Linked DNA regions of Homo sapiens: all the other regions are linked to region 3. Evidence: fine-mapped expression QTL. A gene starts in region 3. Each other region holds a variant in brackets. All regions are shown on one strand. Distances are from middle to middle. Region 1 overlaps MAGI1 (membrane associated guanylate kinase, WW and PDZ domain containing 1). Region 2 overlaps MAGI1 (membrane associated guanylate kinase, WW and PDZ domain containing 1). Region 3 holds the start of MAGI1 (membrane associated guanylate kinase, WW and PDZ domain containing 1).

Region 1 (4,110 bases), 590 kb before region 3:
TAACTTTGATGTCTTTCAAAAAGGAGCTGGAAAGATGAATTACGTCAAGATAAAATATATCAAAGAAGAAAGCCTTGAAAACTGCCCTGAAGGAGTGTTGGGAGGCATTTAACTGGTTTTGTGAGAAAACACATACACACACACACACACACACACACACACACACTTTCTAAGTCAAGGAGCTCAGAAATATTAGAATTAAAATGTCCTCAAAAATTTCAGGGAGCAAAACAAGTCCAAATCCTTTCTGTTCTTGACCTCGTCCTCTTGCTGTCAGTACAACATTTTCTTATTGTTGAGAAGAAAACATGGGAGAACACACAAAAATCATTTCATACATAATGTTTCCCCAGGGTCAGGGCAAGTGGCTCCTATAAGCTTCACAAACACAGGAATTGAGCCTGTTTTCAGTACCACAATACGCTCAGTGCCCAGTGTAGCCTTCTGCACATGTTAGGTACTAAATATTTCTTGATGAATGAATGAATGAACCAATCAATCAATGATTGACTTAAATAACCAACATGGGCCTAGACACCTTGTAAACTCTTGATTTGTTGTGGGGTGGGGGGAGGGAGGAGGGATAGCATTAGGAGAAATACCTAATGTAAATGACGAGTTAATGGATGCAGCACACCAACATGGCACATGTATACATATGTAACAAACCTGCACGTTGTGCATATATACCCTAGAACTTAAAGTATAATAATAATAAAAAAATGATCCCACTGCCAGCGGTAAGTTTTGATTGGCACCGTTTCTTAAAAGGAGAATCTAATTTACACAAAGTCATCTGTGAAAATGCCCATTTGGATATTATCTAATGTCTTTGGGAGCATTTGTTCACTTCTTCAGTAGTTATTTATCAAGACCTATGATGTGCCAGTCACTGTGCTAGGTGACATATCAAAATGAACACAATCAGGGGCCAGGCGTGGTGTCTCATGCCTGTAATCCTAGCACTTTGGGAGGCCAAAGTGGGTGGATCACCTGAGGTTGGGAGTTCGAGACCAGCCTGGCCAACATGGTGAAACCCCGACTCTATTAAAAATACAAAAAAATTAGTCAGGCAGGTGGCGCTCACCTGTAATCCCAGCCACTCGGGAGGCTGAGGCAGGAGAATCGCTTGAACAGGGAGGCAAAGGTTGCAGTGAGCAGAGATCATGCCACCACACTCCAGCCTGGGTAACAGGGCGAGACTCCATCTCAAAAAACAGAATCAGACATCTCTACTTTTCCAGAACAGGAGACAAATCCAAGGCTCACACAAATAAAACTAAAATTAAAACCATGATAAGTTCTCAACAGAGTAAGATACATGAGTGACCTAATCATATTTTTGGGGGCAAAGTCATGGAAAAATTCCCTGAAGTATAACCTGAAGGATATGCAAAGTTTAATGTCTGTTGTATTCATTGACACATTCGAATACCTAGGATGCACGTGACATACAGAAATTATTCAATAACTATTGTGAAATATAAGAGTATAGTGAAATGTAAGCGTATTCTAAGAGAGAAATGCACATTTAACTGACATGAGGCAGGAACTCAATGAGGACTAGTGGGGATGAAGAGCAGAGAGCAGAGAAATAGTGTGAGAAAACCTAGAGAGGCTGACCACACAGGGCTCAGAGTAGCAAGCTATGGACCTGGCATTTCCTAAGCAGACCCTGTGGAGGTTGTCAGCGATAACATCATCACATTTACATTTTAAAAGATTTCTCCGAGTACAACATAAAAAGGAGAGTGAAAAGAGTCTGTATGGGAGATGAGCATGATCCCAGATGAGAATGGAAGATGCGGTGAAAAAAATAGTGAATGGATCCAAGAGATATTTAGGATGCCAACTGAATTCAGCTGGTTCACGGGTTAGAAATAGGTGTGAAGAAAAGTGACATATCAAGGGGGAATTTTGAGTATGCATAAATTTACCATGAATGGAGACAGGAAACACTTTGTATATTACGTAATTTGGGGGGAAAGATCATCAGTTTTAATGGTTTTAATACGACTAAGTCGAAGTATCTTTGAGACAATCGTTGACATTATCAATCACATGGATTACAATATTGGTCTGGAGTTCAAAGGCAACACTGA[G/A]GGCTTCTAACTGAACTGGACACAGCAGTGACAGAAGGAGTCATTCACTAACATCAAAATCTCAAACCAGTTTCTCGATTTTCTGAGATAGGAAATAGAACATATTAAATCTTTATAATAATTAAGTATGATGCTATACTGTTACACCTCATATGTATGACCTACAGAGAACAGAAAGAAATACAGGGACAATATTTGCAACCAATATGTTTTTCTGCTTTGTGTTATAAATAATAACAAGGCAGCTTTGCGTTAACTGGCAACAGAAAATGCAAACTGATACTTACCATAATCTGATTATATATTTATACTGTTTGTGTGTACAGGCACACAGATATACATAGAATTTCTACTAGAAACAGAATATATGAATTCTAATATTAAAGAGATAATTATAAACTAACTGCATTTGGTATGAATACATTCTTGTTCCAAAGGAAATAACATTAACACAAAAAGATAAGAATTTTAAGAATTAAAAATTACTAGATTTGGTAACAAAAATGCCAATTCCATTCAATACTTTCACTCTATGTACAGTTTTTCTCAGTAAAAGCTATTGCAGTATTCTATCACTTATAATATTGTATTAACAAGCATTTTCATACATTCCCAGAATAATTACAAAAGGGATATTGACATTGAAGACCCTATGGTAATAAGTGCCTAAATTGCTTTCAAAATCATAAGGCATCAAATAATGATTATTGTTCCATGAAATTTTAGGGTTGAATGTGTTTTATGCTATGATCTTTGAAAACTGGTTATTTATGTTCAGGTTGAGTAGTCATTATCCAAAATGGTTAGAATCAAAAGGGTTTCAGATTTTGCATATTTTCAGATTGGAGATACTTGTGTAATATACTTACTGGCTCAGCATTCCTAATCCGAAAATCCAAGATCCAAAATGCTCCAGTGAACATTTCCTCTGAGCATCATGGTGACACTCAGAAAGTTTTGGATTTTGGAGCCTGTTGTTGCTTTGTTTGTTTCTTTTAAGACAGGGTCTCTCTCTGTCACCAAGGCTGGAATGTAGTGGCACAATCACAGCTCTCTGCAGCCTCCTACTCTTGGGCTCAGGTGATCCTTCTGCCTCAGCCTCCCAAGTAGCTGGGACCACAGGCGCATGCCAACACGCCTAGCTAATTTTTGTTTTATTATTTGTAGAGTCAAGGTCTCACTACATTGCCCAGGCTGGTCTTGAACTCCTTGGCTCAAGTGATCCTCCTGCCTCAGCCTCCCAAAGTGCTGAGATTACAGGTATGAGCCACACCATGCCTGGCCAGTTTTGGAGCATTTTGGACTTCAAATTTTGGGATCAGGGATACTTAACCAGTATTACATGTTAAACAGAATACTGAAATAATCAGTATAGTCTATTATCTCCCAAGCATGCAAAATACCAGAGCTGAATGAACCTGTTCTATTCCTTCTTCAGGAATCAAACAAAGCAACCAAGATAAAACAAAGCAACCAAGATAAAACAAACATCTTGGTCATGCCTCCTAAGTTAGAAGGACTTTTGTTTCCATTTGAAGTAACTCAGATAAATACCAACACAATAGTCTATGTCATTTAACGTAATCTGCAAACCATGTATAATAGAAGGATCATGGAGTGCAAGGTTTTCACAGTATTATACTATAAAATACTGCCTTGCATTTTCAAAAAATCTTCAAGTTTATATATACAACCATTCTGCACTATAGGACGAATAATAAAGTTCTGTTATCTTACAGTAAAATACATATTTAATAATTATACTACTAATTCACATGCCAGAATTGAATAATGAGTAGCAAAGCAGAGCGAAGCAAACCATTTCCCTTTTCATTCTTCCACATCAAAAAATAATTTTGGTAGAACTTGGGATAGACGTTGGTGTACTGAAAAGGGACACACTAGCTCTGTTTCAATTTTTTTTTTTTTTCATTTTGGAGAAGTAATTAGAAAACCCAAAGCCTTGAAATGAACTTTTTCAACAAAAGCTCTTACAGCCAGTTAGTTC
Region 2 (4,110 bases), 22 kb before region 3:
ACAACAAATCATCGCTACATGATCTTTTCCTTCTGGGAATGCCTGCAGCACTGTTTAATCCTGCCCCACCACCATCCCCTCACCCAGCACCCTCTCCCAGACCAGACAGGGTGGCTCATGCCTGTAATCCCAGCACCTTGGGAGGCTGAGGCAGGAGGATTGCTTGAGCCCAGGAGTTCAAGACCAGCCTAGGCAATACAGTGAGACCCTGTCTCTACAAAAAAAAAAAAAAAAAATCTAAAAAATAAAAATAGAAATACAAAGACATAATACACACGTACTAATTGATAAATTAAGACAGCTATGGTAAATAAAAATAAGCTTTGGATATATAAAAGACCTGGATATAAAGCCCTGGCTCTGCTGAGCCCAGTAAAGCACCTTACGTCCTGCAGGCATCCATTTCCTCATTGATAACTGTGGACGCAGCCAACCCCCTCCCAGCCTGAACCTAAGAACCTGGTTTGTTTCCCAACTTTGCCTACCATTAACAGCAGTGAAAAAAAAAAATCTTAACTCCTCTGTGCCTCAATTTCCTACTCTCAAAAATGGGAATGATTATAACACATTTCATAGAGCTGATTGAGAAGTAAATGAGTTGATAAAAAGCACTTCCAGCAAAGGATGGCATAGAGTAAGGGGTACATATATGCTAGATATTCTATAGCTACTGCCTTAAAATAACAATTAGATGATATTTTTTAAATATGCCAAAAAGTTTATAAGCAATAAATGTCTAGTAGCTTAATTTTTATCCCATCTACACTGGAATAATCAACAGAAAGAAAAATTGACCAAACCAGGAAACTACCCTGACATAAAGTTTATTGGAAAATGTCTATACGCATTTTCTCTCTTTCTATCTGTACATCAATCATTCTAGAACACTAAAGACTCAGGGATCACTTAATTGCTCTATCATCATTTGTAGCTTCCTACAGAGTGGTGACTAAATTGAGACTTCAAGAAATCGAAAGGAAATAACATGAGGACATAAAGACAGTATACTTAGAATGTGTTTCTATCAAATATGCTCCATATAATTTGGTCCAACAAATTCAGCTCTATAAAATCTCAAAGGAGGTAGTGGTGCCAGGAAAGAAGATAAAAACCCAGAGTGTTAAAACAGAAGTGTTTTGAGTCAATTACGAAGTCTATTCAGCGCCTCCACAAGCCTAGAATCAAGTGATCAGATTCAAAGGAGGAAAACTGACAAAATTAATATGGTAATAACTATCAGTCATTCAGTGTTGCCTTTGCTCTGTGTTCCATGCCGAGAGTTGACTGCATCATTTCATTGAATCCCTGTAGCAATCATATAAGATATGTGCTCTTATTACTGCTACTTCACAGAAGTAAAAACATGTACCCAAGGCCACATAGCAAGGAAGCAGCAGGACCAGATTTGAACCCGGACTACATGAAATTCAAATCCTGTGCACATAATTACTGAGCATACAGCCTCCAAGCCAGAAAGGTGGAAGGGTCGACTGGGTCAAAGCTGATGGCGGGACCGAAGAACAGCTGACCAATACACACACCCTTTGCAAAGAAGCGACGAGGACACGTTGCTGGCAAGGCTCTACTCTGGCAATATGTGCCCCAGCACCGGAGCTGGAGACTTTGGGTAAGTGGTGCTCCGGAGAGACCCAGGGAAAGTCAGGCAAAACTGAGCAAGAAAGAAAAGCAGAATGGAGGAGGTCAGGACATCAAGAAAATCTGACTCCACCTGCTTCCAAGGGGAGTGGGAAGATAAAAGTCAAATAGGACAAGGTGGAAACAACCCAATCTCCATCAACAGATGAAGGGTGAGCAAAATGGGGTACATACACAATGGAATATTATTCAGACTTTAGAAGGAAGGAAATTCTGACACGCTGCAGCGTGGATGAATCTTGAGGACATTACACTAATTGAGATAAGCCAGTCGCAAAAGGGTAAACACTGTACGATTTCACTT[T/A]TATGAGGTATCTGGAGTAGTCAAATTCACAGAGAAAGAAATTTAGAGGTCACCAGGGGCCAGGGGAAAGGGGAATGGGGAGTTGGTAATAGGCACAGTAGGAGAAGATGAAAAAGTTCTGGAGATGGATGGTGGTAATAACTGCATAATAACCTGAATATACTTAATGCCACTTAATTGTATAATTAAAATGGTTAATTTTATGTTATGTTACGTATATTTTACCACAATTTTGTTTAAGTCTCATAGAACCTTGCTACGTTCATGAAGTGCCAAGTTGCACTGCCGGGAACCCCAAGGAGAAAGTAGGAGTTAGTCAGTGCGGGAAGACGCAAGCACTTGTGTCTCAACACGCGCAGGGCGCGGCTGCAGATGGAAAAACCGGGAAGCTCCGCGCTGCAATGAGCCAGGCTCGCAGTGAAACCATCGCCAAGGCACCAACGTCTCCCTCCCAACGGAGGGTGCAAGGAAGGGTGCCTGGCCTCAGCTTTCTTCAGATCAAACTCCAGGGGGTCACCTACCCTTAATTCACACAATGGTACATCACACCCTGAAGGGGATCCTGCCACCTGTCACCAGGCAACAATGCAGCCTCCTGACGAACACCAAGCTAGAGGAAACCCACCGCTGTCACCTAATCTGCTGTCACCTAATCTCAGACAAGTAACAACTTCCAAGGCTCAGGGTTCTGACCGCTAAACTGGAGAGGATGGTACACACACTTCACAGCACGTGCTAAGGATGAAGGATGGTGCACGTGTGGCCCTCAGTGCAAAGCCTGAGTAGAGAGGCACTAAATCAAGCTCCACTATTGTTATCATCCGTATAGGTCTACTCTCCTCGGTTTTCACTTTCATACATGAAGCCCAACAGCCAGGTGACAGGACAGATTGGGCAGGTGAGAGCTGGAAGTCATCCCAACTTTGAAAAGAAAGGACTCTTAGGAAAACACAAAGAAGGAGGCAGAAACCATTAGAATAGTTAAACAATGAGAATGCTGAGAACCAACAAGCTGAGAGAAAAAGCAAACATCTTTACTCTTCTTTGGGAATTAATATCTGTAAATTGCTTTGTCTTGGACTCATTTATTTTTCCTCCTTTGATCTTGGTCAGAGATGCGGTCCACAATTTTTGGTGGTTGTGCTTCATGAACACACAACCAGGAGACAAAGATAAGGAAGGACACTTTGGTGGGGGGGGGGGGTGTCTGCACATGCCCATTTAATGTTGTTTTCTTTTACAAGCCTGGCTGGAACAAAATACCTTTAACCTCCACTACACCCTCACCCCAACACACACAGGAGCAGCCCCTGCATATTTTCACACGTGTAACTTTCTGCTACCACCAGGGGATGTAAAAGCAGAGTATTTTCTTCCAAAGACTGACTGCCTGGTTAACAGCATTTGGCCATACTCTAGTACCCCAGAGGTGACATCCCATTCTCTACCTTCCAACAAGGGTATTCAGTGCCAGGAGTTAAACCCTGGGATTCCAAAATTCTAGGCTAAGTGGCCTCCAGCCAGGCACAAAGAGCCAGGCATTTTTTTTTTAATAGATGCAGAAACTGAGGCACAGAGAGGTTAAGCAAGTGATCAAGGTCACACAGCCGGTAAGGGCCGGTGAAGGAATTGAAAATAGGCCAGTGACCACTGTAACCAGTAAACTATCTTGCCTCACATGGATCATGATCACCATCCCTTGTGGCTAGGTTCCAGGTGGACTTGGTACAGCCTTTGGTGGCCGCTGATGGGCTGGTGACCCTCTTTGCAGCCTTCTGCATTCTGAGTGCTCGGGGTCTTAATCAGCCACCTGAGCTCTGACTCTCACCTCACTCAGCACAGCATGGGTTGGTCTCATTACTTACCTCCCATCCTCCTCTTTCAAGTCATTGCTTGTCAAGTTTTGCAAGAATGAGAACTGGCTGTCTGATCACCTCTCGCTCTTCCCTTTGGGAAGCCACAGTGTGTCTCCATTGTTCCCCAGAACTGTTCAAGGCTTCCGGTAAATTCTCGTATCTTCCCTGAGCCATATCCAATTGGAAGGTACCTACCCACACCAAGAAGGATGCCATCTTGATTGGTTCATTCATTCACTCATTCATTCCACAAATGTTTATGCTGCTCAGCTGCCAGGTACTGCCTGGCCATAA
Region 3 (4,110 bases):
AGAACTGTTGTGAATCGGAGTGAGATAGTGCAAGTAAAGTATTTTACACAGAGCCGGGCATGTAGTAAACCAACAATGAATAGTAGCTTCATTTTCATCATCAATAATGACGATGATGGTGGTGGTGGGAGGGTAAACTTGGACCCGATTCGAGCTAAAAGCAAGCACCCCTTCCCCCTCTCCCCCTCCCAAGTGTATGGCTGAGCCACACGGTGGAGACACATGCGTCATCCGGCTGAGGGGTGAATGCAGGCTCTTCTGGCGGCGGGCTCAGGAACCGCCAGGCAGTGGTGTCCTAGCTCACCTGGAGGGGTCGCGGGGTGAAGCAGATTTTCTGATGGGGGAGGTCCAATAAACTACAGACCCTCTCTTTCTGTATACCCACTCAGCAGGTATGGAAACTGACTCGTGGCCAAAGAACGCCAGCTGCATCCCTCCCCCAAGGAGCCAGGACAGCGTCCACCATGCCCCTGACTCAGTTCCCCAACTCTCTCTCGGGTGCAGGCGAGACTGCGCTGCACTTAGTGGCGGAGATAACAGGTTGGCCAGCCAGGCCTGAGAAACGTCCCCCCGCTACCTTGCGCAAACCCAGCCCCCTCTTCGAAACGCAGGTGGGCAAACAACCCTCAACCTCGCAACAACTTTGTGTATTTCACCGCCACCACAGGGCGCACGGCCTCAACTTCTCTTCACTGCGCTCCGAGGAGGGAAGCAGGAAATCGAGAATAAGGGGCAGCCCACAGACCACCCTCCTTTTCTCGGGGCGCCCCCCAAAGGCGCGCCCTGCCTTACCTTGTCTGACGGCCTTGAAGGTGACGGCCTCCTTGCAGCTGTCGATGACCCCCAGCACGTCATAGCGGGGCAAGCCGGACACCCGGACCCCCTGCACCTCCAGAAGCAGCTCCCCTTCGCCCAGCCTCGGGCCCTCGCCGCCGCCGGGAAGCCCCGCTGCCTCGACCGCCGCCACCGCTCCGACGTACGGAAACTCCCCGTGCTCCGCGCCTCCCAGCACCGTCACCCCCAGCTCGCCCTGGGGTCCCCGCTTCACGGTGCATTCGTGAACCCTGCTAGTCCAGTGGTTCTTCTTCTGGATCACTTTGGACATGATGAGTTACACCCCTCCTCCAAAAAAATAAAACGAGAGACAGGTGCCCCCCACAGCACGAGCCCCCAAGCCTCCGCTTGTTCATGGGAGAAACATCTCTCCCCAAATCACAAAACAGGAGAGAGAAACTTGGCAGCCTCGCTCCCCTGCACACGCTCGCGCACTCAAGCCATCATAAAACAAACTTTCTGGGCTTCCCCGCGAGCCCCGCACAGGCGCCCGCGAGCTTTGTTTGCATTCCGGTGCCTCTGGGTCCACGTTCCGGCGCCCGCCCGTGCTCTCCCGGACCAGAGTCCACTCTGCGCCGCTCGGGTTATTTTTTTTTCCTTCCTTCCTTTCTCTCTTGCCTTTTACAAATGCGGTGCCTCCTCTTTGCCTCCCGCCCGGCTCGCCTCTCCTCGCTGGCAGGCTGTTACTGAGGGTGAGGGAAGCCCTTCCAGCCAGTTGCCGGGAGCCCTGAAGACGCGGTGGCGGGGCGGCGGGGAGCAGGGCGGGAGGTAAGTGCTCGCGGCCCCTTTAAGCAGATACAAAGGCTCGGCTTGTTTTGTTACAGTTCATTCTATTCCGCGCCGCGGAGCGCAGCGGCCGGCGACAGGAGACGCGCGCGCATGCGCCCCGCGGCCGCCAGCCGGCCGGCCCACCCCTCCCCTCCTCCCCGAAGGGAGAGATTCCAACGTGCTTCCCGATGGGTCCTAAAACCGACCTGCCGGGAGAAGGCAACTCCCCCCCAACCCTTCCTGAACCCCTATCCTCTCTCCTTTTCTTTCAGTGCCCTGGACTCCGCGGATTCCTTTGGGGCTGGAGGGCCGCACACGTGTTTTACTCCAACTGTTTGCAACTTTTGAAACCCGGGCAATCTGGCTTTGGCATTTGAAAACCATTTCAAACAGGTGGGGGTTGGGGAGGCTGCCACACTCACCCTGGCGCTCACACTCACGCACACGCGCACGCACTCGCGCCGGCCCTAAGCCTCCTAACCGCCCTCGGCCAGTGGCTGGCCAGGCTGTCGGTCACCCAGCCCGGCTGGTTCGCCGCCCCCCTTGCCGCAGGTCCCACTGAAACCCCCGAGACCCGCCCCGGGGCGCTCGCCGCCTCCCTGCCTGCCCTGCGCTTGCGGGTTCGGGTCCTGGCGCGGGGTCTGCCAGGGTCTCTGCGACCCGGGGGAGGGGGACGGTGGGATCCTCCGGTTCCCCAACTGGGATCCCTGTGCGGGTCACACGCGCTCTTACACACACCCGCATCCTTAAACTTTGGGACCAACTTTTTAGGACACGGGAAACTACAGGCAAGAGAGAGAAGCCATGGTGCTAGTGTGGGTTCAGGTATTCAACCAAAAAAGAGATCCCTCTAGCTTTTCAACTGCCCTGCCAGCAGAGACTGCTGGACCCAGTCAATCATCTGCCCCGGCCTCAAGTTCCTGGCAGGGCCGAGAAGCCTGCGGACCTACTCCGGGGCCAGGAGATAAGGATCCCCGCCGGGCGCGGACATGCCCTGCGTCCTGGCGCCCGCGGGGGCGTGAGAGAACTCGGAATTCGCAGCCCGGGGGTAGCTGCGGCCTCCGGAGGTCGCCCGGGGGTGCGGATGGAGTGACTTCTGTCCCGGCGAGGTGGCGGACAGAAAGACTCCCATACCACAGGAAGGCTGCCCTTCCCAAATACTCCTCAAATCAGGCTGCTGAGTAGTCTCCCCAGCAGTTTGTTTTCCTCTTTAGTGATGTATAATTTTGTTCATCTTTGGTCACAGGAGAGATTCCAAGAAATGAGGGGGGTACGTTGAAACGATGAAGAAAGGATGGACACAGCAGTCGAGGTTGAGAGGTAGGCTCAGGGGTCCACCCTTGTGTGACCTTGAGCAAGCTTGGTGACCTCCGCGCCTCCGTTTCTCGCTGATCAAATAAGTAGAACAAGACCTCACAGGGTTCTTGGAAGTATTACGTGGGAAAACACTTATAAAGTGGCAAATAATAAAAACTCATTATATTCTTAATAGTAGTATTACTATTTGGGAAGAAAATTGGGAAATCATTTGGGGATTCAAGTTAGTAAGTATGATAATTTATCCTCTCCTTTCTAGAACTTAGAAAATATGGGCATACTTTGTGTGTTTGTTTTTTGATGGTGGTGGTGGTGTTTTTAGAAACGTGGTCTTGCTTTGTCCCCAAGCTGGAGTGCAGTAGCTCGACTAGCTGATTGTAACCTCGAACTTCTGGACTCAAGCAATCCTACCACCTCAGCCTCCTGAGTATCTGGAATTATAGGCACATGCCACCATGCCCAGCTAGTTTTATTTTTTTGATTTTTTGTAGACATGGGGGGGTCTCCCTATGTTGATTGCCCAGGCTGGTCTCAAACTCCTGGGCTCAAGCCAACCTCCTGACTCAGCTTCCCAAAGTGCTGGGGTTATAGATGTGAGCCACCATACCTGGTTTAGGCATACGTTTAAACATCCTTTTAAAGCATTGTAGGGTGCTATTCTAAGCTAATAAAAGTAAGGAGGGATGTTGATGCTTCTCTCTTGGGATATCCAGAACTGAAAATCCCATTGCATTGTTGTGTTTCTGAAAAAAGGAGGTGACCAATTTTCCATGGCTTTGCTTGGTGAGAGGAACTTTGTCTCCAGCTTTTTTTCAGAAGCAATCTAGGTCAATATGAACAGCACTTCAAAACATAAATTATCAAACCCGAGCACAGATCCAGCCAATCAGAATGTCAAGGAAGGGCTAAGTCATTTGAACTTTTAAGGTTCCCCTTATGTGTTGTTGGTACACAACGCTGAGCACCATAGGTTTAGTATCTTGATTCCAAAGCATTGTTTGGGTCCCAGACCTTTTTGTCAAATAAACCTGTGATCCACATCTCTGTGTAAAATAAAAACTCAAGGAGGTCAGGACACTTTGACAGTTTGGTTTACTGATGTATTATTCCCAGTTCCTAGAATGGTGCCTCGTACTAGCAAATGCTAAAATATTTGTCAAATGACTCTTTCCACAAAAATGTACATTTTTA

Evidence for each region. PIP is the estimated chance that this variant, and not a neighbour inherited with it, causes the effect. A credible set is the group of variants that fine-mapping cannot tell apart.
Region 1: its variant is the best candidate, but not a certain one, in a credible set for the expression of MAGI1 in skeletal muscle (FUSION, PIP 0.56).
Region 2: its variant is the best candidate, but not a certain one, in a credible set for the expression of MAGI1 in cerebellar hemisphere (GTEx, PIP 0.67).

Annotation. Positions count from the first base shown.
Region 1 is chr3:65,448,564-65,452,673 of GRCh38, forward strand. The region is part of intron 6 of MAGI1 (membrane associated guanylate kinase, WW and PDZ domain containing 1); the gene reads right to left. Among named protein-coding and RNA genes, the nearest start is that of LINC02040, 280 kb to the left of the region's middle. The variant G/A (reference allele first, on the strand shown) is at 2,103.
Region 2 is chr3:66,014,962-66,019,071 of GRCh38, forward strand. The region is part of intron 1 of MAGI1 (membrane associated guanylate kinase, WW and PDZ domain containing 1); the gene reads right to left. LOC124900543 (a long non-coding RNA gene) reads right to left here. Exons shown (of 2, transcript XR_007095951.1): 1 at 1-4,110. Among named protein-coding and RNA genes, the nearest start is that of MAGI1, 22 kb to the right of the region's middle. The variant T/A (reference allele first, on the strand shown) is at 1,961.
Region 3 is chr3:66,037,204-66,041,313 of GRCh38, forward strand. It overlaps MAGI1 (membrane associated guanylate kinase, WW and PDZ domain containing 1), which reads right to left and starts at 1,715. Exons shown (of 23, transcript NM_001033057.2): 1 at 793-1,715. The coding sequence starts at 1,105. It overlaps LOC105377128 (a long non-coding RNA gene), which reads left to right and starts at 1,750. Exons shown (of 2, transcript XR_001740440.2): 1 at 1,750-1,995; 2 at 2,849-3,091. RefSeq lists an enhancer at 1-730 and a silencer at 1,683-1,802.